2 separate regions of the Homo sapiens genome follow, and region 1 is linked to region 2. Evidence: fine-mapped expression QTL. A gene starts in region 2. The other region holds a variant in brackets. All regions are shown on one strand. Distances are from middle to middle.

What was found. PIP is the estimated chance that this variant, and not a neighbour inherited with it, causes the effect.
Region 1: its variant is fine-mapped to the expression of SAXO5 in spleen (GTEx, PIP 0.95).

What each region holds. Positions count from the first base shown.
Region 1 is chr19:7,469,658-7,484,353 of GRCh38, reverse strand. It overlaps ARHGEF18 (Rho/Rac guanine nucleotide exchange factor 18), which reads right to left. Exons shown (of 29, transcript NM_001367823.1): 28 at 14,325-14,450; 29 at 11,876-14,228. The coding sequence ends at 14,056. PEX11G (peroxisomal biogenesis factor 11 gamma) reads left to right here. Exons shown (of 5, transcript NM_080662.4): 3 at 2,143-2,321; 4 at 5,978-6,040; 5 at 6,918-7,479. The coding sequence ends at 7,152. Among named protein-coding and RNA genes, the nearest start is that of PEX11G, 12 kb to the left of the region's middle. RefSeq lists enhancers at 128-649, 6,873-7,508 and a silencer at 11,150-11,199. The variant C/T (reference allele first, on the strand shown) is at 9,684.
Region 2 is chr19:7,490,108-7,502,225 of GRCh38, reverse strand. It overlaps SAXO5 (stabilizer of axonemal microtubules 5), which reads right to left and starts at 4,678. Exons shown (of 9, transcript NM_198534.3): 1 at 4,544-4,678; 2 at 827-1,420. The coding sequence starts at 1,403. It also overlaps a transcript of PEX11G not described here. RefSeq lists a silencer at 9,189-9,483.

The DNA of each region.
Region 1 (14,696 bases), 19 kb after region 2:
GAGACAGGGTCTCACTCTGTCACTCAGCCTGGAGTACAGTGGCGTGATCATGGCTCGCTGCAGCCTTGACTTCCCGGGCTCAGGTGATCCTCCTACCTCAGCCTCCGGAATAGCTGGGACTGCAGGTGCACCACCACACCTGGTTAATTTTTTGTATCTTTTGTAGAGACAGGGTTTTGCCATGTTACCCAGGCTGGCCTTGAACTCCTGGGCTCAAGTGATCCACCTGCCCCGCCTCCCAAAGTGCTAGGATGACAGGCGTGAGCCACCGCGCCTGGCCACAGATCATTTCTTATCGGTCTAGAAAGAGCTGCGTTCTCAGGACCACATAGTGCTCTGCTATGCAGCTTCGGATTTATTTAATTGGCCTCTGGTTGACGCACAGGGCAATGATTTCTAAGGTTTTGCTATTGCGACAGTGCTGCAGAGAGTAGCCTTGTCCCTGCGGCGTCCCACAGGCGTGCCAGCCTATCTAGAGAGCCATCTTGCCCCCCACGGGATGATCTCAGAGGCTGCGTGGGCCAGCCTCTCAGCGTCCTGCCCCTCCCTGGGCTGCCCTGTCTGTTCTCTCTGTCCTCCCAGGGATCACCTCTCTGAGCCACTTGCTACTCAGGTGCTCCCCGCCCCGAAATCCCAACCCCACCGTGTTCAGCACCACGTGTCCTTGGCCTGATCATCCTATATCATAAGTGTTGCTGTGGGCCGCCTTCCTGTTTTGACACCTATAGCATCCTCCTCCTCCGTGTCTGATTAGGACAGCGCTCTGGTGCATCCCTGAGACCCCTCGTTCCTCTATGCCCTCTGTGGAAGAGCCCTCAGGCAAGGGGTGGAGGCCCTTGCACCTCGAGTGTCCCTTGGCCAGAACAAGAGCCCTGTTTGTTGGGTTCCCGGTTTATATGTCTGCGTTCCTCCCTGCCCTGGTGAGCCTCTGCCCCTCCCCAGAGTCTAGCCTGGACCCTGCCGCTTCTCAGGAAATCCGGGCGGAATGAGCACATTGGGGCGGGGTCCGCCATCCTCAGGGAGGTGGGCAATGTGCCAGGACGCGCCAGGCAGATGAGGGAAGCTGGAGTGAGGTTCAGAGCCCGGAGGGAGGTAGGATCATGACTGGCCAGAAAGAAGGAGAGCAGCATCTGGAATCAGCGGTGGGGGCGGGGAGGAGCTTCCTGGGAAGTCAGAGAGGAGGGGAAGGGTGTGGCAGGTAACAAGGAGGATAAAGGTAGAGGGGGCGGGGCTCCGATGGGGCGGGGTCACGGTGGGCGGGGTCCCAAGGGGGGTGGGGTCCCAAGGGGGCGGGTCCCCCGGTTGGCTGCGGGGCTCCAGTCCCAGAAACCAGGCTTCAGCGCTGGTTTCTACAGCCTCAACTGGTCCTGCCTCGCTGGCTCTAGGCCGTGTGATTAAGAACTTGGGGCAGAGGGTATGGGCACTGTGCAGGACCGAGAGCCCGCGTGTGCATTGCAATTCGAGGGCCTGGAGGCCCATCCCTGCCGGAACTGGGGGCCAGCGGCTTTCCCTGAGAGCCTCAGCGTGGCCGTCTGTAACTTGCTCGGAGTTGAGGGAGGCCATGAGCCTTGCCGCACTGTGCCTGGCGCGTGGTCAGCAGTGGGCGTGCGGTGGCCCAAGGGTTGGCACACCATCTCAGCCTGGTCAGGGTTCGCTGCGGGCCACCTCATGCTCCCTGCATAGAGTCTGGCAACAGAGGTCCCCACCTGTGCAGGAACTGGAAGCCTTTGGGAAGGAAGGCTCTGACACAGGGCTCCCAACTTGGCCTGGGAATCCCCTGGGAATGTGAAAATTCCCTGTGAAAATTCCCGGTACTGGGGCCTGCCCCAGGCTGAGTGAGGCAGAATCCTCACGGCTGGCATTGGGCATGGGGTTTTTGAAGCTCTGCAGAGGACTGCACTGCACAGCTGCGTTGAGAGCCTCCCTCCAAGGGGCACTGAGCACCGTGCTGCCGAGACACAGAAATCAGGCCTGTGCGGGGACCCCAGCCCCAGAGCCTTTCTCCCGCGGGGCCTGCCAGGCCTGGACACGGCCCAGGGACTGGGGTCAGGAAATAGCTCTCTGCCACCTGGCATGGCTACGGTGCTAAAATGGGCAGTGGGTAAGTCTGACCCTAGGCCCCCTCTGCTCCTGGTCCTGCAGGAGGAGGACGCCTTTGTCCGCTGTGTCTCCGTCCTAGGGAACCTGGCTGACCAGCTCTACTACCCCTGTGAGCACGTGGCCTGGGCGGCTGATGCCCGGGTCCTCCACGTGGACTCTTCTCGGTGGTGGACGCTGAGTACAACCCTGTGGGCCCTCTCTCTGCTCCTGGGGGTTGCCAGGTAAGTGGCATGGGCCAGAAGGGAGCACCCAAGGTCCCTGGGCGGTGCCTCCTTAGCAAAGTGGCAGCGGCCCCAGCAACAGCACAGGCTTCAGACTGCGGTGGGTCTTTGCCTCTTAGAGTTTTCCTTGGAGGTTTTGTTGTTTCTTCCTTTTGTGGGTGTATTTGTTTAGAATAACTGTCGGAACAAATTAGCACAACTCTGTAGTGCTGGGCAACAGAAACTTCTTATCTTAGGATTCTGAAGGCTGGAAGTCAGAACACTCCCTGGGCTAGTGTCAGCAGGCGCTGATGCCTTCTGGAGGTCCCAGGGGGAGGTCCGTTTCCTTGGATTTTCCAGCTTCTGGAGGCCACCCACATTCCTTGGCTCATGGCCCCTTCCTTCATCTTCCAAGCATGACCTCTGCTTTCAGCGTCACACCTCCTTCCCTGACCCTCATCCTCCTTCCTCCCTCCTATAAGGACCCCTATGATGACATGGGGACCACCTGGATGATCCAGGGTAATACCCCATCTCAAGATCCTTAGCTTAGGTTGGGCGTGGTGGCTCATGCCTGTAATCCCAGCACTTTGGGAGGCCAAGGCGGGTGGATCACTTGAGCCCAGGAGTTCTAGACCAGCCTGGCCAACATGGTGAAACCCTGTCTCTACTAAAAATACAAAAAATTAGCTGGGCTTGGTGGTGCACACTTGTAATCCCAGCTACTTGGGAGGCTGAGGCAGGAGGATTGCTTGAATTTGGGGAGGTGGAGGTTGCAGTGAGCCGAGATCACACCCCTGCACTCCAGCCTGGCGACAGAGCAAGATTCCGTGTCAAAAAAAGAAAAAATCCTTAGCTTAATCCCATCGGCAAAATATCCTTTGCCTTGGAGGTGAACATGTTGACAGGTTCAGGACATGGACATTTTAGAAGGGGTCATGACTCTGCTGACCACACTTAGAAAGAAGAAGTAACTCCAGGGCCTGTGAGAAGCAGCCAGCGGAGTGGCCTTTACCCGGGTCCCTGAGTCTTGCTGGCGTTGCTGTCAGCCGACACCCCAGAGAAAACAGTCAGCAGTTTCCTGACTAGTTCTGTGCCTCCAAAAAACCATATAGTTTCTAGAACTTTCTAGTAATGGTTTCCTCCCAAACATTTTCCTCTTTGCAAATGCGCTGAGTCAGAATCCCCTGCCCCTGAAAACACCAGCAGGAGCTGGGCCCCCTGGTCTCCATGTTTCAGTGGCTGTGAAGGGCTCTTAGATCGCTGGGGTGAGGTGCGGCTGCCCCCAGCCTCAGGCAGGCTGTGTCCTTTTTCTGGGGGAAGCTTTGCTTGTCCCTGGTCGAGGCTCTGACTCTCAGTAGTTCTTGTTTTCCCCCCGGCACAGATGTCCTAATTACATGCTTACCGTAGACAATCTGGAAAATAGATAAACCTCAGAGTAGAAGATTCGAATTACCCACAATCCAACCCAGACTCCCACTGTTCAAGCTTGGGTGGTTCTTTTCCAGCCTTTGACCTAATACCCTGCCTGTGCATTTTGGCTGTCTCAAAAGGGTCATGTTTCATGGCCATGGCCCCTGGAGGCAGCGGTGTCTGTGCTGCTGGCCTTCCCTGTGTGCTGGGAGACCTGGGGGAGGGTGCCTGGGCCCAGCCTGGATGTTCCTGGGGCTCCGGTCAGAGGGGGGCCTTGGCTCACAGCCTCTCTTCCGCCACCTTCCTCTGGGTGCCTCGTGACCTCTGGTTTGTATTTTAGGGGCAGCCTTGGTTCCTTTCTTTTTTGCTTAAATAAACTTTTTTTTTTTTTTTGAGACAGGCTGAAAAGCAGTGGCTCAATCTTGACCCACTGCAACCTCCGCCCCTTGGGCTCAAACAATACTCCCACCTCAGCCTTCTGAGTGGCTGGGACCACAGGCTGTGCCACCATATCTGGCTAATTTTTGTAATTTTTTTTCTGTAGAGACACGGTTTTGCCATGTTGCCCAGACTGGTCTCCAACTCCTGGGCTCAGGTGATCCACTTGCCTTGGCCTCCCTAAGTGCTGGAATTATAGGCGTGAGCCACCACTCCCGGCCCAGACTTTATTTTTTTAGAGCAGTTTTAGGCTCATGGCAAAATTGAGCATAACGTTCAGAGAGCTCCCATATACCCCCACACACAGCCTCCCCGACTACTGGCAGCATCCACATGGTGCATTTGTTACAACTGATGCCCCTCCATGGATCCATCATCACCCCAAGTGAGTAGCTCACGTTAGGGTTCACGCTAGGTTTTGGGCATCCTATGGGTTTGGACACTGACACGTGTCCCCCCTTGCAGAATCAAATGGAATTGTTTCACGGCCATCGAAGTCCTGTGTGCCCCGCCTGCTGCGGCATTCTTGTTTCGGGCATGTGGTTTTTCATCATTTCTCTGGATTTGCAGTGAGCAGGGGGAGTGGGTGGAGAGCATTCCATGTGTGCTCATCATGACCAGACATCTGCCCTAAGGCCCAGGGCTGCCGGAGCATCAGCCAGGAGGTTGCTAAATGGAGATGCCTGGGTCCGGCGCCCAGGGCTTCTGATTCTTTTCTTGAGACACAGTCTTCCTCTGTCGCCCAGGCTGGAGTGCAGTGGTGCGATCTTGGCTTACTGCAACCTCCACCTCCCGGGGTCAAGTGATTCTCCTGCCTCAGCCTCCCGAGTACCTGGGATTACAGGCGCCCACCACCACCCCCAGCTAATTTTTGTATTTTTAGTAGAGACAGGGGTTCACCATGTTGGCCAGGCTAGTCTTGAACTCCTGACCTCAGGTGATCCACCGGCCTTGGCCTCCCAAAGTCCCGGGATTACAGGTGTGAGCCATCGCGCTTGGCCCAGAGCTTCTGATTCTGTGGGTCTGGGGAGCCCAGGAATCAGTGTTTTTCCCTAGCCCCCCAGGAGGCTCCCACCTGCTGTGCCACTGGCGCTATCCTGCATCCTGCACCCTGGGTACCCAGTGGCCAGAGGAGTTGTGACCAGGCCCTGCCCATTCTGTCACAGTCACAACCCGGCACACCCCACGGCCGAGGCTGGAGAGTGCAGGTGCCTGGTGGACTGGCCCGGGTGGGTGCCATGCACGGCTGCAGAGCCTGCTGGGAGCACAGAGGCTGCCCACTGGGTAGCCCCTTCCTCAGCCTGCAGATGCCAGCCCTGGGGGCCCAGGGGATCATCCAGACAGGTCCAGCCAATGTCCGGGGTGTGTGTGCAGGGGGTGCTGGCATGGCACTGATTTGGACCTTTCCACACAGAGCAGACAAGGCAGCTGAGGCCCGGAGGGGAAACGGCGTCCCCACGCCTGTCCAACTGCGGGCCTCTTGGCATCCTTTTCTGTGTAGGACTCCCTGCCAGGCTGTGAACACCTCACGGGGCTTGATGTTCCTTTGAGCACTTGCCAGTGGTTTGCAGAGGCTGGGCCAGGCCCTGGATGGCCACGTCAGAAGTGCAGGACGATGTCCCGGGTGGGACGGGGCCGTGTTAGAGATGAGTCCCCGGGAGCATGAGGCACAGCCAGGAGGGTGTGGGACTGTGGGGGCAGGGAGAGGGCAGGCCGTTTATCCGAGATGCAGCACCTGTCCCAGACTGTATGTCCGGGGCCAGCGTTGTGGAGCTAACCCTCCTGCTCCCCGCCGGGGCATCCTCCCTCGGGCTCTGGTGCTGCAGGTCCCTGTGGATGCTGCTGAAACTGAGACAGAGGCTGCGGAGCCCCACGGCGCCCTTCACCAGGTAGGAGCCCGTGATCACCCAGCAGGGAGGCCCACTCCCTCCAGCAGGCGTGGGATCCCGGCTCGCAGCCACCCCTGTGCAGGCCCATGCTGGGGACTGTTGTGCTCAGGTCATGGGGGAGTCATCACAGCCTCTGGTGGGTGGCGGTACCTTTTACAGATGGAGAAACTGAGGCTTGCTTGAGCGGGGACTCCAGGGCTGAGCCTTCATGGCTGCGCCCCCAGCAGGAGAGAATGATCAATTTCCCGAAGGCCATGGCCATTGTTACTGTTGCTTTTTCTTTTTGTTTTTTGAGACAGGGTCTTGCTCTGTTGCCCAGGCTGGAGCACAGTGGTGCCATCTTGGCTCACTGCAGCCTCTGCCTCCTGGGCTCAACTGATCCTCCTGTTTCAGCTTCCCGAGTAGCTGGGACTACAGGCACGGGCCAGCACGCCTGGCTAATTTTGTTTTTTATTTTTTGGTGGAGATGGGGTCTCGCCATATTGGCCAGGCTTATCGTCACTGTGTCATCCTGATAAAGAAAGGCCGGGCAGGCACAGGCCACGCTCCTGGGGGTTCCCCCTTCCCTCCACACCTCCCAAAGTGCATTTGTGCTTTCTGTTTTTCACAAGGAATCCCCATCTCTGGGTGTTCAGGACGAGGAGTGAGGTGTGGATTTGAGGACTTGGACCCGGGTTCCTGCCCTGTTCGTGCTTGGGTCGGGGGGGTGATGGGGACTCAGTCTCTGTGGATGGTCAGGGAGGCCACCTCAGTCCTGCCAGCTCCTCCCACTCACAGGCAGGGGCTCAGGGCTGCCAGGCCACACAGGGCATTCAGGGGCTTGGGAAGGGCAGGCAGGTGTGAGCGTGAGTGTAAGCGGCCCCTCTCTGCCCCACAGCCCGCTGCCCCGGGGCAAGCGGAGGGCCATGGAGGCGCAGATGCAGTCGGAGGCGCTGTCACTTCTCAGCAACCTGGCCGACCTGGCCAACGCCGTGCACTGGCTGCCCCGGGGCGTGCTGTGGGCCGGCCGCTTCCCGCCGTGGCTAGTGGGCCTCATGGGCACCATCTCCTCAATCCTCAGCATGTACCAGGCGGCCCGGGCCGGCGGCCAGGCCGAGGCCACTACCCCCTGACACTGCCGGAAGAGCACAGGGACACAGCCAGAGCCCACGGAGGGCCCTTCCCGCAAAGCAGAAGCCGCCAGGGCAGGGGCCGGGGCTCTCATGGAGCTGCCTGTGGTGAAACCCATGGGCAGGGTGGGTGGAGGGACTGATGCGAGGTCCCCCAGGCCTCAGCCTGGAGCTCCTGAGCCGTGACAGTTTTCAGGGGCCGTGCAGGGCTTCAGCAGCACCTCCTGCCTGCCAGCTGGCGTCTTGTATCCAAATCAAGATGAGGAAGAGGGGGCCTGTCGTGCCTTGAGAAAGCTGGAACGGGAATCAATTAAACATTGTGGTGCTGGCGCCTGGCTCAGGGGTGAAGGTTATTACACTGCTGGCTCCTGGCCCCTTACCCTCCACAGGACGGACCCAAAGTTGGAAACCACACTACCCCAGCCCACCTTCAGGAATGCCCTCAGCCCGGTGGGTCCTCTCCATCTTTGAGCAAGCGTTGCCCACGGACCCCAAGTGGCCTCCAGCCATTGAGGGCTGTTCTCTACTCCCCAGAGTCCTGGGCACACAGGCCAGAGGCGCCACCTCTCATCAGGCCACCCGAGGGCGTGGCCTCATGCCACTGTGCTGCCGACGCAGGGCCACTGTGAGCATTTTAAGGGCTCCAGGCTGAGACTGGGCAACACACACTGGCATCGCTGAAGATACTTGGGGCTCCCACCTCAGCCAATGTGTGGTGGGATGGGATGAGGGCACTGCTTAGTCTGCTGGCTGAGAACAACCCTTCAGAGTCTGTGCACATGTGGCCTCTGGCAGACATTGTTGCACAGCCTGGCCCAGGAACACACAACAGCCAGTGTGTGTGCGCCCTTGGGCCTCATGTGATATCAATTGCACTGCCTTGATTTTTATCTTTTTGACCCAGGATCTCTGTCACCCAGGCTGGAGTGCAGTGGTGCGATCATAGCCTCACTGCAGCCTCAAACTCCTGGGCTCAAGGGATCCTCCTACCTCAGCCTCCTGAATAGCAGGAACTACAGGTGTTTATCACCAAATCCAGCTAATTTTTAAACTTTTTGTAGAGACAGGGTCTCACCACATTGCCCAGGCTGGTCTTGAACTCCTGGCTTCAAGTGAGCTGCCTGCCTCGGCCTCCCAGAGTACATTTGTGGTTTGTTTTTTACAAGGAAGATACCAGGTGGCTCTGAGCAGCTGGGAGGCCGGGGACTGCTCAGGGTCACACGGGTGCGGGAGACCCCATCTGTGGGGGCTCCTTCTGCCCAGGACTCACGAGTGGGCCAGGCTTGGTGGGTTTCCCCCTTCTTTCCCTTGTCGGGGGTGCAGGCCTGTCCTGGCCCTCAGCAGAGGCCTCCTTCCCAGCCCCTAGCAGCACCTGCATGATTAGGGCATCTCATTGTCTACCTGGAGACCCAACTACTTACTAGCTCATACCAGTGGGGCCCTTGGAGCAGCGCCTCTGTGTGGGGAAGCCACATGACCACCTGGTCACAGGTGCCAGGAGGAAAAGCAAGCCACCTTCAGGGATACAGCCTGGGCTGGGAAGGCCTTGGACACTGACCATGTGGAGCCCAGGCACAGAGCAGACAGGTTGGATGCTTCCAGAAAGGGAGGCCGCTCTCCCACTCTCTCAGCTGGTCCAGTGGTTGTGTGTGTGTGTGGTTGTGTGTGTGTGTGTGTGTTTAAACAGTTTTATGGAAATATAATTCACATATAAAATTTATCCACAGAAGGGGGACAGTTCAGTGGCTTTTAGTACATTCACAGTCGTGCAAGCAGAGCCACAGTCAACCTTAGAACATTCCATCACCCCAGAGAGAAACCTCACACCCCTCAGCTGTTACCCACCCGCAGCCCCCAGGCTTGGTGACCACTACTCTGTCCCTGGGTTGCCCATTCTGGTCCAGTGGTTTTCAACCTTTTAGGGGCTGGGAACAGACCCCTTTGTGAACCTTAAAGACTACGGGCCCTCTTTTTTGAGACAGAGTCACTCTGTCGCCTAGGCTGGAGTGCGGTGGCGCGATCTCGGCTCACTGCAACCTCCGCCTCCTGGGTTCAAGCAATTCTCTGCCTCAGCCTCCCGAGTAGCTGGGACTACAGGCACGCCCAAGCATGCCTGGCTAATTTTGTATTTTTAGTAGAAACGGGGTTTCACCACGTTGCCCAGGCTGGTCTTGAACTCCTGTGCTCAAGTGATTCACCCACTTCGGCCTCCCAAAGTGCTGGGATTATAGGCGTGGGCCACCGTGCCCAGCCACTACAGGCCCTCTTTGCAGAACATCTCATTTTAGGGTGCCTCCAAGCCCCCCAGGGCCCATAAGGAGTGCTGAGGAAGGCTGGGGGCATCCCAGTGGAGGGGTCAGCTAGGCAGAGGTCAGAGGACGGCTGGGGTTGGGGTGGAGCAAATCAGAGGGTGGGGGGAGACACACACACACACACACACACACACACACTCCAATGCCCACCATCAGGAGAATAGCAACTGGCCAGTTTTATGTTGTGTGCATTTGACCACAATGAAGAAAAAATAGACCAGG[C/T]GCGGTGGCTCACGCCTGTAATCCCAGCACTTTGGGAGGCCGAGACAGGCAGATCACCTGAGATTAGGAGTTCAAGACCAGCCTGGTCAACATGGTGAAACCCCATCTCTACAAAAATGCAAAAATTAGCCGGGCATGATGGTGGGTGCCTGTAATCCCAGCTACTCGGGAGGCTGAGGCAGGATAATTACTTGAACCTGGGAGGCGGCGGTTGCAGTGAGTCAAGATAGCGTGCCACTGCACTCCAGCCTGGGTGACAGAGCAAGACTCCATGTCAAAAAAATAAATAAAAATGTAATAAATTAATTACATCCTTTTTTTCTTTTTTTTTTGAGACGAAGTCTCACTGTTGTCCCCCAGGCTGGAGTGCAATCGTGCAGTCTCGGCTCACTGCAACCTCCGCCTCCGGGTTCAACCGCTTCTCTTGCCTCAGCCCCCAGAGTAGCTGGAATTACAGGTGTTTGCCACCACGCCCGGCTGATTTTTGTGTTTTTAGTAGAGATGGGGTTTCAACATGTTGGCCAGGCTGGTCTCAAACTCCGGACCTCAGGTGATCTGCCTGCCTCGGCCTCCCAAAGTGCTGGGATTACAGGCGTGAGCCACTGCGTCCAGCCCTTTTTTCTTTTTTTTTTAAATTTCATTTCTTTTTTCTATCCCCCAAATTTCCTTTTTTTTTTTTAAGCTCTTATAGACAGGGTCTCACCATGTTGCCTAGGCTGGAGTGCAGTGGCACGATCATAGCTCACTGCAACTTTGAACCCCTAGGCTCAAGCAATCCTCCTGCCTTGGCCTCCTGTGTAGCTGGGATTACAGGTGCACGCCACCATACCTGGCTAATTTTTTTTTTTTTTTTTTTTTTTTTGAGACGGAGTCTCGCTCTATTGCCTAGGCTGAGTGCAGTGGCGCAATCTCGGCTCACCGCAAGCTCCGCCTCCTGGGTTCACGCCATTCTCCTGCTTCAGCCTCCCGAGTAGCTGGGACTACAGGCGCCCGCCACCACGCCCGGCTAATTTCTGTATTTTTAGTTGAGACGGGGTTTCACCTTGTTAGCCAGGATGGTCTCGATCTCCTGACCTCGTAATCTGCCCACCTTGGCTTCCCAAAGTGCTGGGATTACACGCGTGAGCCACTGCGCCCGGCCAACCTGGCTAATTTTTTAATTTTTCTGTGAAGGGGTTTCACTATGTTGCCCAGGCTGGTCTTGAACTCCTGGGCTCAAGCTATCCTCCTGCCTCAGCCCCCGCCTCCCCAAAATGCTGGGATTACAGGGATGAGCCACTGTGCCCGGCCCTCCTTTTACTTTTTTAATATGGCTACTAAAAATGAAAAATTCCACACGTGGCCTGCATCATCTTCCTGGTGGACAGTGCTGCCTGAGAGTTCCCTTTTTGCGCTTCCTAGTGAGCTAGTGATCGACTTTACACCTAGTCCCCTTGTGATGGGAAACCCTCTGTTGAAACAGCAGGGTCCTCGCCTCACTGGACCGGGACTCAGACCAGGTGGAAATGATGATTTCATACTCATGGCCAAGCTGCCTCTCACCCCAGATGGAGGAAGTGAAAGTTCCAGCCTTTGCGGTTATTGTGGATTAAAAGCAAAAAGATTTTCGTGGAGGCGCCACCAAAGCCTGAAGTGTACCCGGTGGGCAGGACCCTCCACAGGCACCTCCACGCCCCACTCCTGCCCTGTGCCCGTAATCCCAGCACTTTGGGAGGCTGAGGCGGGCAGATCACTTGAGGTCAGGAGTTCGAGACCAGCCTCGCCAACATGGCGAAACCCCATGTCTACTAAAAAAATACAAAAATTAGCTGGGCGTGGTGGTGCACACCTGTAATCCCAGCTACTCAGGAGGCTGAGGCAGGAGAAGTGCTTGAACCCGGGAGGCAGAGGTTGCAGTGAGCTGAGAACCTGCCACTGGTCTCCAGCCTGGGCGACAGAGCAAGACTCTGTCTCAAAAAAACAAACAAACCAAAAAAACAGAAACAAAAACAAAAACAAAACCCCCAACAACTCCTGGGGACTGGACCTGAAGGGGTCTTCAGAGCGTTAAGCAGGACACGGAGGGCAGGTGAGCGAGCTGAGGGGCAGGAGCCATGGGGAGCCCCCAACAGAACCTGCTACTCCTGCAGCAACGTTTGGGCAGAAGAAAATCCTCAAATAAAACCTCCAAGAACGTGCACGCCAGTCACCGCTCATCTCGGACACGTTTATTGCTAGAATCAGGTCTTAAGTTCTAAAGCGGGTCAGAAATATCCCGCAGTGAGGAAATGTTGTAATCATTGTAAAAATAATTAGCAGGTGACTAAGATCATGACCACAACTGACAAAGACGTGTGCAGATCCCACGAAAATAGGAACATTTGCTCGACTGTCAACTTTACAAATAAAATCGGGCTCCAACCCAGGAGTGGCCGAGGGGCACTGGCGAGGGAAGGGCTGTCGGCGCTGCCGCCCGATGCCTAGCACGACTGAGACCCCTCTGCCACATGGCGGGGACGCGGGGTTCCCACCGCGTGGCCGAGCAGAAATTCCTTGAACTTCTCCCCCATCCAAGGAATTGTGGCATCTCGGAGGGCTGGACCGGCACACGCCGGCTCAGGAGGGTGCCAGGGTCTGGGAATGTTCTCTTCACAACAGAACAGGAATGTACAGTCAGCTTCTGTAAAGTGCTCCGATACTCAGTACAAAAATACAAAACACTGATGATAAACATGGCACACATGGGATCTGACGGGGGGCGGACAGCGTCGCTGATGGCCAGGGACCGGGCTGGGCAGAGTTGAGGTCGTCGGAGGGGCCAGGAGCCTGGGGACACCTGGCCACTGTGTTCTCAGGACCTTGTCACCAATGGGCTGTATGGCTGTGGGGCTCTGGTTCCCGGTTGGCACCAGCTCCTGCCCCGCCCCCTCCTGAGCCCACAGCACCCAGTGGGCGCCTCTGCCCAGGGGAGCACTTCCTGATGGAGTTTCCCCTCCCTTGTGCCCATCTGTCCCCGAGTGGCGGGAATGTCCCTGTTCACTGTATTCAGCGTCACAGGAGTGCCTCTGCCAGCACAGTGGGAGAAGGGCTGAATCCCCCCGGGATCTGCAGTTCCCAGGACCCTGGGTTCGGGAGAAGGACTTGGCCCTGGCAGGGGCTCACATGTACCCCACTGGGAACAAGGACGATCAGCCAGGACCCAGTCCTACCACCAATGCTTGGGGTGCAGAACAAGGCTTGACATGGGCCCTTTCTCCACCGGAGCTGGATCGTGGATGGATCTCACCACCCTGGGATGTCCCAGCACCTTTGATGCTGCCCAACACCTCCTTCCTCCACCCCTCCAGGGAACGGACCGTAAGCTGCAACAGCTCACTACAAGCGAGGGGCCCGCACAGCGGCCACTTGTCCACTTGCTGCAACGTCTCTAGGTGCATCCTCTGCATGCCCTGGGACATGGCGCTCTCGACAGTCTGTGATGTGCCAGCCCCCACCTGGAAGGTGGGACGCCAGCCCTGGGAGCTCATTTCCCGGGGGCTGAGGACCCTGTGCCCAGGGTGTGTACCCGCCCTGGCTGAAGCTAGAGGCCCGCTCCCCCAGACAGGCTGAGCGTGTGAACAGCAACGGTTGCCCTTGGGAAGCAGAGTTTGGGAAACAGCTGGTTTCAAAACCAATGCCAAGTAAAAAGGGGCAAAGGTCAGCCCCTTTCACGATGGGCTTCCAAACCCACAGAACCTGACTGGAGGGCCACTGATGTTCCCTCAGTGGGCCCTGCCCCGTGGCCCTCTCTGCCCATGCCCCCGTGCCTGGCTCATTCCCTGACCCTGAGGTTCATGGTGAACCTGCGTGGGGCTCTGTTTGGGAAGTGGATTCTGCCTGATTCTGGGGACAGATGCTGCCGACGCCACCTGGCCCCTCCTGGTGCCCTAACCCTTGGCTCCACTGTCGCGCGGCGGCTGTGGAGCGTGGCCCCGGCCGGCAGCTCCTTCTCAAAGCAAGGTCTGTCCTGTCCTCAGCTCCGTGCAGAGCCGGCACCGTTCCTCACTGCCTCGGAAAAACAGCTCGGAGTTGATCTCCCCGCCACCCGGATGGGGTGCTATGATTTCAGACAGCTCCCTGGTTTAGTTCTGGCTCAACTTTCCATTAAAAACTTTCCTTTTTGAAAAAAAAAAAAAGAGATTCAGAAAGTGACCCCGGCACCACCGCTAACCCTACAGAAACAGCTGCAAGGCCCAGAGCACCGACAGGCTGGCCCCTGCCAGGCGGTCATCAGTGGTTTGCTAGGGAAGAGGAGGGGACAGCTGGGTGGGCATGGTGACCCCATGGGGGTCCCCAGAGAGCAGGAAGGGTGGGCAGGGCAGGGAGGGGCCTTGCACCTTGAGTCACGGCCCTTTTAGAAGAAGATGACGTCTTCTTTGCTGGCGTCCTCCTTGGCGCTGAGTGGTGTGGCCGGCAGTGGCGAGGGAGCTGGGGGCCCGGGCAGGAGGGCTGTGCCCCCGGCCTTGAGAGAGAAGCCCTCGGAGGGGCTGTCAGCTGGCGGTGGGCTCGGGGCGGGGAAGCCAGGGTCTGGAACAGAGAGAGGGTTCAGACTGAGCAGTCGCCGGGTGGTGCCGCAGCCCCGCTGCCCTGGGACTGGGCTCATGTCAGGGGGTGGGGGCTCACCTGGTGGGGGCGCAGGACTGTGTCTGCCGGGCAGGATAGGGCTCAGCGAGCGGCGGTTCCGTGAGGTGCTCTCATCTTTCCCCATGAGCTTGTTGAGCAGCAGCTGCTGCTTCAGGTCGAAGGACGCTGGAAGAGAGAAGGTATTTGGGCCAGCTCCAGGCTGGCCAGCTGTCCCCACCCGCCAGGGCAGCCTCCGAGAGCAGAGGGGCCTGGCCACCCCCACCTGACACTTCCCACGGGCGGCCTGGATCCCGTGACCTGAGCTGCTCAGATGCTAAGCCCCAGATTCAGGGAGAACGGCCCCAACCTCCCTGCGGAAGGACCTGCAGAGTCACCCGGCATCTGGAGAGGAGGCTGAGCCTCCTGTGGAAA
Region 2 (12,118 bases):
GCTGAGGTGGGAGGATCACTTGAGCTGGGCAGATTTAGTCTGTGTGAGCCGAGATCATGCCACTGCACTCCAGCCTGGGTGACAGAGACACTTTCTCAAAAAAATATATACACATATATATATAATAAAAAAATAATAAAATTTTTATTTTGTAGAGATGGGTCTCGCTATGTTGCCCAGGCTGGTCTCCAATTCTGGCCTCAAGACATCCTCCTGCCTAGGCCTCCCAAAGCACTGGGATTACAGGCGTGAGCCACCGCGGGTGGCCTCGCCACCCCCCAAGTCTTCCTCCCTCCCTCCCTCCCTTCCTCTCTGTCTTGTTTTCCTTCCTTCCTTCTTCCTTCCTTCCTCTCTCTCTCTCTCTCTTTCTTCTTTCTCTTCTTCCTTTCTTTCTTTCCTTTTTTTGAGACGGAGCCTTGCTCTGTCTCCCAGGTTGGAATGCGGTGGCACAATCTCAGCTCACCACAACCTCTGCCCCCTGGGTTCAAGCGATTCTCCTGCCTCAGCCTCTCAAGTAGCTGGGATTACAGGCACCCTTCACCGCGCCCTACTAATTTTTGTATTTTAGTAGAGGCGGGGTTCCTCCATATTGGCCAGGCTGGTCTCGAACTCTTGACCTCAAGCGATCCCCCCGCCTCCAACTCCCAAAGTGCTGAGGTTACAGGCTTGAGCCACCGCGCCCGGCCACCCCCCAAGTCCTGACCACCAAAAGCGTTTCCAGACATTGCCAAATGTTCCCTGGGGGAAGGGGAATGAAGAGCCCTTGCCCCTGTTTGAGAACCACAATGTGAAGCAAATCGCCCACTCAGCCCGGGCGCGCGCTCACCGAGGTGGCAACTGGGCGCGCGAGGCTGCGGGCGCGCGTCGTGGGGTGGAAAGAGCGCCTGGTGCGTGGTGGGCGGGATGCGCAACTTGTCGCGGTCGCCAGGAGGCAGGGAGTCGCGGTCGAAGATGAGGCGCGCGCCGCGGATCCGCTCTCGGGTGCGCGCCGGCAGCTCGGGCCAGCCGTAGGCGGCGTGCGCGTTGGAGAGGCCGATCCCGGCGTGCGCGTCCTCGTGCAGGTGCAGGTTGCCGGCCTGCATGGCGAGCGTGCGTTCCCGCGCCTGCGCTTGCAGCAGCTCCCACGGCGGCGTGGATGGCGGCGGGAACGCGCGGTGCGCCTCCGACACGCGCTCTTCCCGGTCCCAGCGCGGGTCCATTGGGAAAAGCAGCGCGGGCGGCGGCTGCAGGCTCGGCGGCTCCCGGGTGGCAGCCGGGTAGGCAAAGTCCCGGTGCGACGTGGTGCGCATGGTGCCCTCGTGCAGCCGCAGGTCAGGCCCCAGCGAGAAGTGCGAGGCCTTGAGGAAGTCCAGCCGGGACATCGGGCACGGGCGCGAGCACGGCAGGAGGGCGCCTGTGGCCATCGCGGGACACCAGCCACCTGCGAGAGGGTGGAGATGAGGGACTGAGCAAGTGCCCATTGGGGCACTTGCCTTTGACTCCTGCTTTTGACTCCTTTCTGCTGCCTTTGACTCCTTTCTGTTCGCCAAGCACTGAGCTGGAGGCTGGGGACATCACGGGAAACTGGTACAGCTTCTGTGCCTTCCCCCAGCGAGAGCAGAGACAGAAATAATCATGGCTGGGCGCGGGGGCTCACGCCTGTAATCTCAGCACTTTGGGAGGCCGAGGCCGGTGGATCACCTGAGGTCAGGAGTTCGAGACCAGCCTGGCCAACGTGGTGAAACCCTGTCTGTACTAAAAATAATTTTTAAAAAAAATTAGCCTGGAGTGGTGGTGGGCGCCCGTAGTCCCAGCTACTCGGGAGGCTGAGGCAGGAGAATCGCTTGAACCCGGGAGGCAGAGGTTGCAGTGAGCCGAGATTGTGCCATTGCACTCCAGCCTGGACGACAGAGCGAGACTCCGTCTCAAAACATAAAAAAAAATCTTTCATGTGGTGCCTACTGTAGGCCTGGCACACAGTAGGCACCACATAAATGATTTCTGTCCCTACTCTAGGCCTGGAGGCCAGCAGGGGTGGGGAACTAACATTAGTTCACAAAATAGACCTAGATCCCTGCCTTTGTGGAATTGATAATGGGGCGGGAGATGACAGACAATAATAAAAAATATAACAACAAAAATTGAAGAGTAGGTTAGAAGGTAATAGCTGGGTACTGTGACTCACACCTGTATCCAGGCACAGTGAGAGGTCAGAGCAAGAGGACTGCTTGAGCCCGGGAGTTCAGGACCAGCCTGGGCAATATAGTGGGACCCCGTCTCCACACACACACACACACACACACACACACACACAAATTAGACAAGTGTGGTGGGCTCAACCTCTTGGGCTCAAACGGTCCTCTCACCTCAGTCTTCTGAGCATCTGGGACTATAGGTGTGCACCACCATGCATGGCTAATTCTTTCTATTTTTTTTTTTAGAGACAGGGGTCTGGCTATGTTGCTCAGGCTGGTCTCAAACTCCTGGGCTCAAGCAACCCTTCTGCCTCAGCCTCCCAAAGTGCTGGGATTACAGGTGTTAGCCACCATGCCTGGCCAAGGGTAGGTTTTAACCACTGCTTCACAAAAGACATTGAGGCTCAGGGAGGTGGTCATTTGCTTGAGATTTGAACCCAGGGCGACTCTGATTCTAGAACTTGGAGAATTAACCACTGCATTCTACTGTATGTCTGATACAAGAACCGCGTCTTCTCACCCTCAGTCAGTTGTCAAGGCCACGGTTTTCTCCTTCTTCCCCTCTGGGGGACCCATTTTTGTTCCTCTGCCTAACTCCAGCCCTGCACCCCAGCCACTGGCCATCTCCGTTTCTGCCACACTTTTTCTCCCTTCTCTCCCCCTCCCCCGCCCCTCCCCCCTCCCCTCCGCTCCTTTCACTTCCCTACCTTCTCTCTCTTTCTTTCTTTCCTTTTCTTTTTGTGACAGAGTCTCACTCTGTCCCCCAGGCTGGAGTACAGTGGCACGATCTCAGCTCACTGCAACCTCCACCTCCTGGATTCAACTGACTCTCCTGCCTCAGCCTCCCAAGTAGCTGGGATAACAGGTACCTGCCACCATGCCCGTCTAAGTTTTGTATTTTTGGTAGAGACGGGGTTTCACCACATTGGTCAGGCTGGTCTCGAACTCCTGACCTCAAGTGATCTGTCTGCCTTGGCCTCCCAAAGTGCTGGGATGACAGGTGTGAGCCACTGTGCCCGGCCTGCCACGCACTTTCTTACTGGTTTTCCCCTGCTCTGCAGTTGTCCTAGGTCCTGCCTATTCTCAATCTCTTCCTGTCTTCACACCTTCTGAGAGTTAGCTCTCTCCTCTGACCTTCAGCTTCAGACTCCAAGCCTCCCCTGACCCTCCGCCTCTGCTCAGTCACCTGGGACTTTCTTGCCTTTGCTTAGATCACAAGTGTCTCCCATGCTCTCCTCTCTGTCTCCCTTGGAGACCAGCATTCCAAGTTCTCAGGCTCACCTCTTGCAGGAAGACCTCCCAGATCACTTCAACCCACAAAACCTGCTTACCTCTACCTATTTAGAAAACATGGATCAGACGGGTGCAGTGGCTCAGGCCTATAATCCCAGCACTTTGGGAGGCCGAGGTGGGCAGATCTCCTGAGGTCGGAGTTCAAGACCAGCCTGACCAACATGGAGAAACCCCATCTCTACTAAAAATACAAAATTAGTCAGGCGTGGTGGCGCATGCCTGTAATCCCAGCTACTCCAGAGGCTGAGGCAGGAGAATAGCTTGAACCCAGGAGGCAGAAGTCGTGGTGAGCCAAGATTGCGCCATTGCACTCCAGCCTGGGCAACAAGAGCGAAACTCTGTCTCAAAAAAAAAAAAAAAAAAAAGAAAAAAATACAAAAATTAGCTGGGCATGGTAGTATGCACCTGTCATCCCAGCTACTCAGAAGGCTGAGGCGGGAGAACCGCTTGAACCTGGGTGGCAGAGGTTGCAGTGATCCGAGACCACGCTACCGCACTCCAGCCTGGGTGACAGAGCGAAACCCCATCACAAAAATAGAAAGAAAACATGGATGAAGGGTGTGTGTGTGTGTGTGTGTGTGTGTGTGTATGTGTGTGTGTGTGTTTTAATGAAACCACAGTTTTTCAGTGTGTAAGTTTGTTGCTTTTTTTTTTTTCTCAGCTCACTGCAACCTCTTCCTCCTGGATTCAAGCGATTCTCCCACCTCAGCCTCCAGAGTAGCTGGGACTGTAGGTGTCCGCCACCACGCCCGGCCAATTTTTGTATTTTTAGTAGAGACGGGGTTTCGCCATGTTGGCCAGCCTGGTCTCGAACTCCTAGCCTCAGGTGATCCACCCTCCTCGGCCTCCCAAAATGCTGGGATTACAGGCATGAGCCACCGCGCCTGGCTGAGTTTGCTGCTTTTTGAATCATTTGCCCCCTGCAATAGTTGAGAGTTGAATATGACCTCCAAAATGGGTCATCAGAGAATCCAACAACTGAGACTACTAGCCAGGTAATCTTGGAATAAGTCATTAAGCTCCCATGAGCCTCAGTTTTCACCTCTGTACATCAGGGACGAGGACAGTGCACCTACCTCAAGGGATGGCGTGTGAATCAATGAGTTTTAGAAAATTCACTTAGCTACAGACCAGATCTTTGGGTCTCCCTCTGTCCCTGGTCTCTCAGAGGATCCTCATGTTCCTTCCCAGGCTGCATCCAAGGGTGGTCCAGCCCTGCGCATTGTGACCCCAAGAGCTTCCTTTGTGTAATGATACTGTCACAATGACCACTCAGCACCTCTAGGGGCAGCCGGGAGGAAAATTAGCAGGCAGGCTTGGTGCGAATACTGCCTCCTTAGAGCTCCAGGAACCCAGGCAAGTAATTGACTTTTTGGAGCCTCTGGGGTTTTGTTCGGTTGGTTTTGTTTTTGAGGTAAGCTCTCGCTATGTTGCCCAGGCTGGACTTGAAGTCCTGGGCTCAAGCGATCCTCTCGCCTCAGCCTCCCAAGTGGGTGGGTCCACAGGTGTGTGCCACCATGCCTGGCTAGGACTTAGGTTTTGTCATCTGCAAAAGGGGACTAATGATGGTAGCCAGTTCAGAAAGCAGTGTCAGTATTGAGGATTTGATTAAATAGGCTGCTGGTGTCCATTATTATTATCATCCTCTAAAGTTTTTCTGTCCCTCTACCTTCTACACACCCCACACAGAATGGACCCACTTCCCTGAATCACTGCACCTCTTGATATTATTCTAGGGCTCACAGATCTCCCTTTAAAGGGGCCGGTCACCCCTCCTTCCCCAGTCAAAGACCACCAGGAATGTACCTGTGATTGAACACATTCAAGCTTATTATTCATCAGAGAGAGAGAGAGAAAGAAAGAGAGAGGGAGAGAGAGCTCATACATGTCATAGGGCACTATGGCGGTCTCAGTAGGGAGGTGTTAGAAAGAACTTTTTTTCGCTATTTATTTATTTATTTATTTATTTGAGATGGAGTTTCGCTCTTGTTGCCCAGGCTGGGGTGCAGTGGCACGATCTCAGCTCATCGCAACCTCCGGCTTCAAGTGATTCTCCTGCCTCAGGCTCCCGAGTAGCTGGGATTATAGGCATGTGCCACCACACCCAGCTAATTTTGTATTTTTAGTAGAGATGGGGTTTTTCCATGTTGGTCAGGCTGGTTTCGAATTGCCGACCTCGGGTGATCCGCTCGCTTCAGTCTCCCGAAGTGCTGGGATTATAGGCGTGAGCCACCACGCCCGGCCAGAAAGCACTTATTATGGGATTTGCAATTCTGCTCGGTGTTTTGGGGGCACAGCTTAAGGAAGTAGGGGATTTGGGTGGGATGAATTTATTGGTTGGAAATTTTACTTTCTTTTTTGAGATGAGCAGATAAAAACAAATAAAAACAACACACAGGTGAGGCATGGTGGCTCACATTTGTAATCTCAGCCTCCCAAAGTAGCGTCCAGAAAAGGGCTGTTGTGGCTTGGTGTGGTGGCTCACGCCTGTAATCCCAGCACTTTGGGAGGCCAAGGTGGGTGGATCACTTGAGGTCAGGAGTTTGAGACCAGCCTGGCGAACACGGTGAAACCCTGTCTCTACTGAAAATACAAAAATTAGCCGGGCGTGGTGGCTCACGCCTGTAATCCCCGCTACTCAGGAGGCTGAGGCAGGCGGATCTCCTTTGGTCAGGAGTTCGAGGCCAGCCTGGCCAACATGGTGAAACCCTGTCTCTACTAAAAATATAAAAAATAGCCGGGTGTGGTGGCGGGCACCTGTATTCCCAGCTACTCAGGAGCCTGAGGCAGGAGAATTGCGTGAACCCAGGAGGCGGAGGTTGCAGTGAGCTGAGATCACGCCATTGCACTCCAGCCTGGGAGACAAGAGCAAAACTCTGTCTCAAAGAAAAAAAAAACTAGCTGGGCATGGTGGCGGGCACCTGTAATCCCAGCTACTCAGGAGGCTGAGGCAGGAGAATCGCTTGAACCCAGGTGGTGGAGGTTGCAGTGAACTGAGATCGTGCCACTGCACTCCAGCTTGGGCCACAGAGCAAAACTCTGTCTCAAAAAAAAAAAAAGAAGCAAGGGCGGCTGAGTGCAGTGCCTCAGGCCTGTAATCCCATCACTTTGAGAGGCTGAAGCGGGAGGACTGCTTGAGCCCAGGTGTTTGAGACCAGCCTGGGCAACACAGTGAGACCCTATCTCTATAAAAAATTAAAAAGCCAGGTGCGGTGGCGCGTGCCTATAGTCCCAGCTACTTGGGAGGCTAAGGTGGGAAGATTTCTTGAACCCAGGACATTGAGGTTGCAGTGAGGGTGCAGTGAGCTATGATTCCGCCACTGCACTCCAGCCTGGGTGACAGAGTGAGACTCTGTCTCAGAAACAACACAAAACAAAAGAGCAGCTAGGGAGAGAAGTAACTATTATTCAGCATCTTAATCATCTGTATGAAGAAGTCAGAAGGAAGGAAGGAGAGAGGGAGGGAAGGAAGGAAGGGAGGGAGCGAGGGAGGGAGGGAGGGAGGGATTTGGGATCTGCAGTTCTGTTAGGTGTTTTGGGGGCACGGTTTTGTTTTTTGTGCAAATCCTGCCTCCTTAGAGCTCCAGGGAAGCTGGGAGCTGGAAGGAAGGAAGGAAGGACGAAGGGAAGGAAGGAGGGAGGAAGGGAGGGAAAGGAAGGAAGAAGGAAAGAAGGAGGGAAGGAGGGAGGGAGAGAAGGAGGGAAGGAAGCAGGGAGGGAGGGAAAGGAAGGAAGAAGGAAGGAAGGAGGGAGGGAGGGGAAGGAGGGAAGGAAGGAAGGAAAGAAAGAAAGAAAGAAGTCAGAAGACTAAAGCTGTGCTTGGTAAGGAACAGCCGTTGCTGGTATTAGCTAGTAGCAGAGGAGGTCCAGTTACTCTGATAGTGTGGACAGTGTTCGTGTTTTGCCTGTGTTCAGACATGATTATGGAGCAGGCTTGTTTTGTCTTGCTCTGCCGCGGTCACAGAGTGGCCTTGTCTGATGTCGGCGTCATGTGAGATTGTTTATGTCCAGCAGGAGGACACCAGGGCCCTGCTTTGACTGCCAGGCCAGCTCCTAGCAACACCAAGGCCAGCTGTGAACACCAGGCCAGCTCCTGTGTCTTTTTCAAAGGTCGAGCTCAGACCTAGCCAGATGGGGGACGCTGGGAGGGCTGGGCTGTGTCTGCAAAGCTCACTGCTGTATCTCTGTTGCCTAGAGCGGGACCCGGCACACAGGAAGCATTCGGGCAAATGCATTGCGCTGTTCCAAGGCTCTTGGGCCTGAGAGGAGGGATCTGCTTATTCATGCAGCAGCAGGCTTTGCGGCCAGTGACCTCTTTCCTCTGCATGTCTGGACCTTGGCTTTGGATTTTTTTTTGTTTTACTTTTTTAGAGATGGGTCTTGCTGACGCCCAGGCTGGAGTGCAGTGGCGTGATCTCGGTTCACTGCAACCTCCACCTCCTGGATTCAATCGATTCTCGTGCCTCAGACTCCTGAGTAGCTGGGACCACAGGCACAGGCCACTGCAGCTGGCTTGGCTTCAATTTTTCTGCTGTGAAAACAGTGACCCCGTGGCTGGGCGCAGTGGCTCATGCCTGTAATCCCAGCACTTTAGGAGGCTGAGATGGGAGGATTCCCCAAGGTCAGGAGTTCGAGACCAGCCTGGCCAACAGGGCAAAACCCCATCTCTACTAAAAATACAAAAATTAGCTGGGCGTGGTGGTGGGTGCCTGTAATCCTAGCTACTTGGGAGGCTGAGGCAGGAGAATCACTTGAACCCAGAGGCAGAGGTTGCAGTGAGCTAAGATCATACCACTGTATTCCAGCCTGGGTGACAGAGCGAGACTCTGACTCTAAAAAAAAAAAAAAAGAGTGACCCCCCCACTGGGGGAGAGGGGAGTGCACAAAGACCCGTGGACCCAAGTCTTTTTTTTTTTTTTGAGACGGGGTTTCACCATATTGGCCAGGCTGGTCTCCAACTCCTGACCTCAAGTGATCCACCTGCCTTGGCCTCCCAAAGTATTGGGATTACAGGTGTGAGTCACTGAGCTCAGCCAGTGGACCCAAGTCTTAAAAGGAGCTGGATGTGGAAGTTAAAGAGTCTCTTGGGGCCAGGTGTGGTGGCACACACCTGTAATCCCAGTGCTATGGGAGGCTGAGGATGGAGGATCACTTGAACCCAGGAGTTCAATGCAGCAGTGGTGCTATGATCATGCCACTGCACTCCAGCCTGGGCAACAGAGCGAGACCCTGTCTCAAAAACAAACAAGAAGAAAAAAAAAAGAGGCTGGGCATGGTGGCCCATGCCTGTAATCCCAGCAGTTTGGGAGGCCGAAGTGGGTGGATCACTTGAGCCCAGGAGTTTGAGACCAGCCTGGCCAACATGGTGAGACCCTATTTCTATTAAAAACTCCAAAAATTAGTGGGGGCGTGGTAGCAGGTGCCTGTAATCCCAGCTGGTTGGGAGGCTGAGGCAGGAGAATTGCTTGAACCCGGGAGGTGGAGATGGCAGTGAGCCGAAATCATGCCACTGCACTCCAGCCTGGGCAACCGAGTGAGACTCTGTTTAAAAACAAAAACAGAAAGAGAGAGAGACAGAGAGGAAGAAAATCACAGGAGTGGACAAGGCCTTTCTTGTGCCCCCTTGTGTTCCATGCTCCCTTGGAGCACAAGAAGAGATCTTTGGACAGGGCAGTGAAACTTACAAAACAGATTCTCTGTTTTCTGCCAGGCTGTGCGGATATAGCCATGAACAAGACAGGTCACCAGCAGGTAACATGGGTAGGAAGTGTCCAGGAGGGTGTGATCGGGTGGGTCCCGTGAGAGGATGACATTCGAGTAAAGGAAGTTAGGGAAGGAGGGAGCCACGTTGGTATCTGGCTCAAGAACATTTCTGCAGAGGAAACAGAACATGCAAAGTTCCTGAGGCAGGAATCTGCTGTAACTTTAAACAACAGGAGGAAAGCAATGCAGGAGAAGAGTAACAAGAGTTGAAATCAAGAGGAAATATTCTGTGAAAGAAAACTGGTTAACATCGAGGCCAGACGCGGTGACTCACGCCTATAATCCCAGCACTTTGGGAGGCCGAGGTGGGCAGATTTCTTGAGATCAGGAGTTGGAGACCAGCCTGGCCAACATGGCGAAACCCCGTCTCTACTAAAAGTCTAAAATTAGCCGGGCACAGTGGCGGGTGTGCTGTAATCCCAGCTATTTGGGAGGCTGAGGCATGAGAATCGCTTGAACCTGGGAGGTGGAGGTTGCAGTGAGCTGAGATCAGCACTGCACTCCAGCCTAGGCAATAGAGTGACACTCTGTCTCAAAAAAAAAAATTCAAACAAACCAACAAACAGACTCGTTGACATCATTAGTCATCAGGAAAAGGCAAAACAAAACCACAATGGGGTGGCACGTCACACCTACTACGATGGCTATCATAATCAAAAAAGGATGTTGCAAGGAAGTGGCGAAATTGGAACCTTTGTGTAATGCTGGTGGGGATGGAAAATGGTACTGCTACTGTGGGAAACAGTTGGGCAATTACTCAAAAAGTTCAACATAGAGTTACAAAATGACCCAGCAACCCCACTTCTAGGTATAGACCCAAAGGAATGGAATCCAGGGACTCCAACTACATATTCACAAATGTTTATAGCTGTACTTATTCACGATCGCTAAAAGGCAGAAACAGCCCAAATGACCATCAGCTGATACGTGGATAAACAAAATGTGGTCCATCCATATGGCGCAATGTTATATAGCTGCAAGTGGAATGAATTTCTGATACATGCTGCAACTTAGACAAACCTCAACACCATTATGCTCAGCTGCACGCAGTGGCTCACACCTGTAATCCCAGCACTTTGGGAGGCCAAGGCAGGAGGATCCCTTGAGTCCAGGAGGTCGAAACCAGCCTGGTGAACATAGCGAGACCGCATCTCTACAAAAGAAAAATTTTAAAAATTGGCCAGATGTGGTGGCGTGCACCTGTAGTCCCAGGCAATGTGGAGGCTGAGGCAGGAGGATCTCTCAGGCCCAGGAGTTCAAGGCTGCAGTGAGCTATGATCACACCACCGCACTCCAGCCTGGTGACACAGCAAGACCCTGTCTCAAAAACAAAAAGCAAAAACCAAAACAACCTATTATGCTTGGTGGAAGAGGCCGACACAAATGGTCACATATTGTATGATTCCATTTGTATGAAATATCAAGGAGGTCGGGCATGGTGGCTCATGCCTGTAATCCCAGCACTTTGGGAGGTCGAGGCAGGCAGATCCCTTGAGGTCAAGAGTTCAAGACCAGCCTGGCCAACATGGTAAAATCCATCTCTACTACAAATACAAAAATTAGCCGGGTGTGGTGGTGCGCACCTGTACTCTCAGCCACTTGGGAGGCCGAGGCAGGAGAATTGCTTGAACTTGGGAGGCGGAGGCTGCCGTGAGCTGAGATCATGCCACTGCACTCCAGTCTGGGTGACAGAGTGAGACTCTGTCTCAAAAAAAAAAAAAAAAAAAAAAAATCAAGAAGTGGTAAAAATACAGAGAGACAGCAGAGAATGCAGATTAGTGGTTGCCAGGGGCTGGGAGGAGGGAGGAATTGAGTGATTGCTTTATGGGAACAGGGTGTAGGGGAGGAAACATACTTTTTCCTTTATTCTTAGTTCTTAGCTGTGATGGATCCTTGCAATGAAAGAATTAAGAAGGGCGGGTGCGGTGGTTCACGCCTGTAATTCCAGCACTTTGGAAGGTCGACGTGGGAAGATTGCTTAAGCCCAGGGCTCAAGGCCAGCCTGGGTAACATGGTAAGACTCCATTTCTACAAAAAATAAAAAATAAAAAGAAATTAGCCAATTGTGGTGGCAGGCACCTGTGGTCCCACCTACTCAGGATGCTGAGGTGGCAGGATGGCTTGATCCCAGGAGTTCAAGGCTGCAGTGAGTTAAGATCGTGCCGCTGCACTCTACCCCTTTTTTGTGGGTAGTTGGTCAAGCTACCATGGGGCAGAATGTAGCAAGCTCTGGGCATCATCCTGGGTCCTCAGGCCCAGAGAGCACACAAGTGGCGGCTTCACATCTACAAATTTGGTTCCTCCCAGAGCGAGGCCCTGTCTCAAAAAAAAAAAAAAAAAAAAAAAAAAAAAATAGAGGCCAGGCGCGGTGGCTCACGCCTGTAATCCTAGCACTTTGGGAGGCAGAGACGGGCGGATCACGAGGTCAGGAGATCAAGACCATCCTGGCTAACACGGTGAAACCCCGTCTCTACTAAAAATACAAAAAAAAAAAAAAAAAAAAAATTACCCAGGCGTGGTGGCGGGCGCCTGTAGTAGTGCCAGCTACTCGGGAGGCTGAGGCAGAAGAATGGCGTGAACCCGCGAGGCGGAGCTTGCAGTGAGCCGAGATCGTGCCACTGCACTCCAGCCTGGGCGACAGAGCGAGGCTCCGTCTAAAAAAAAAAAATTAACAAGGGAAAAACAAATTTATTAACATGTGTACCTTATGTGTACATGGGAGATGCCAAGAGAAATGAGGTGGCTTATATAGCTTATATAACTCCTGCTTATATAGCACCTTCAACATATAGCAGCAAATTTTTGGAGAAGTGACAAGACGAAGGAAAAGGACATTGAGGCCGGGTGCGGTGGCTCACGCTTGTAATCCCAGCACTTTGGGAGGCCGA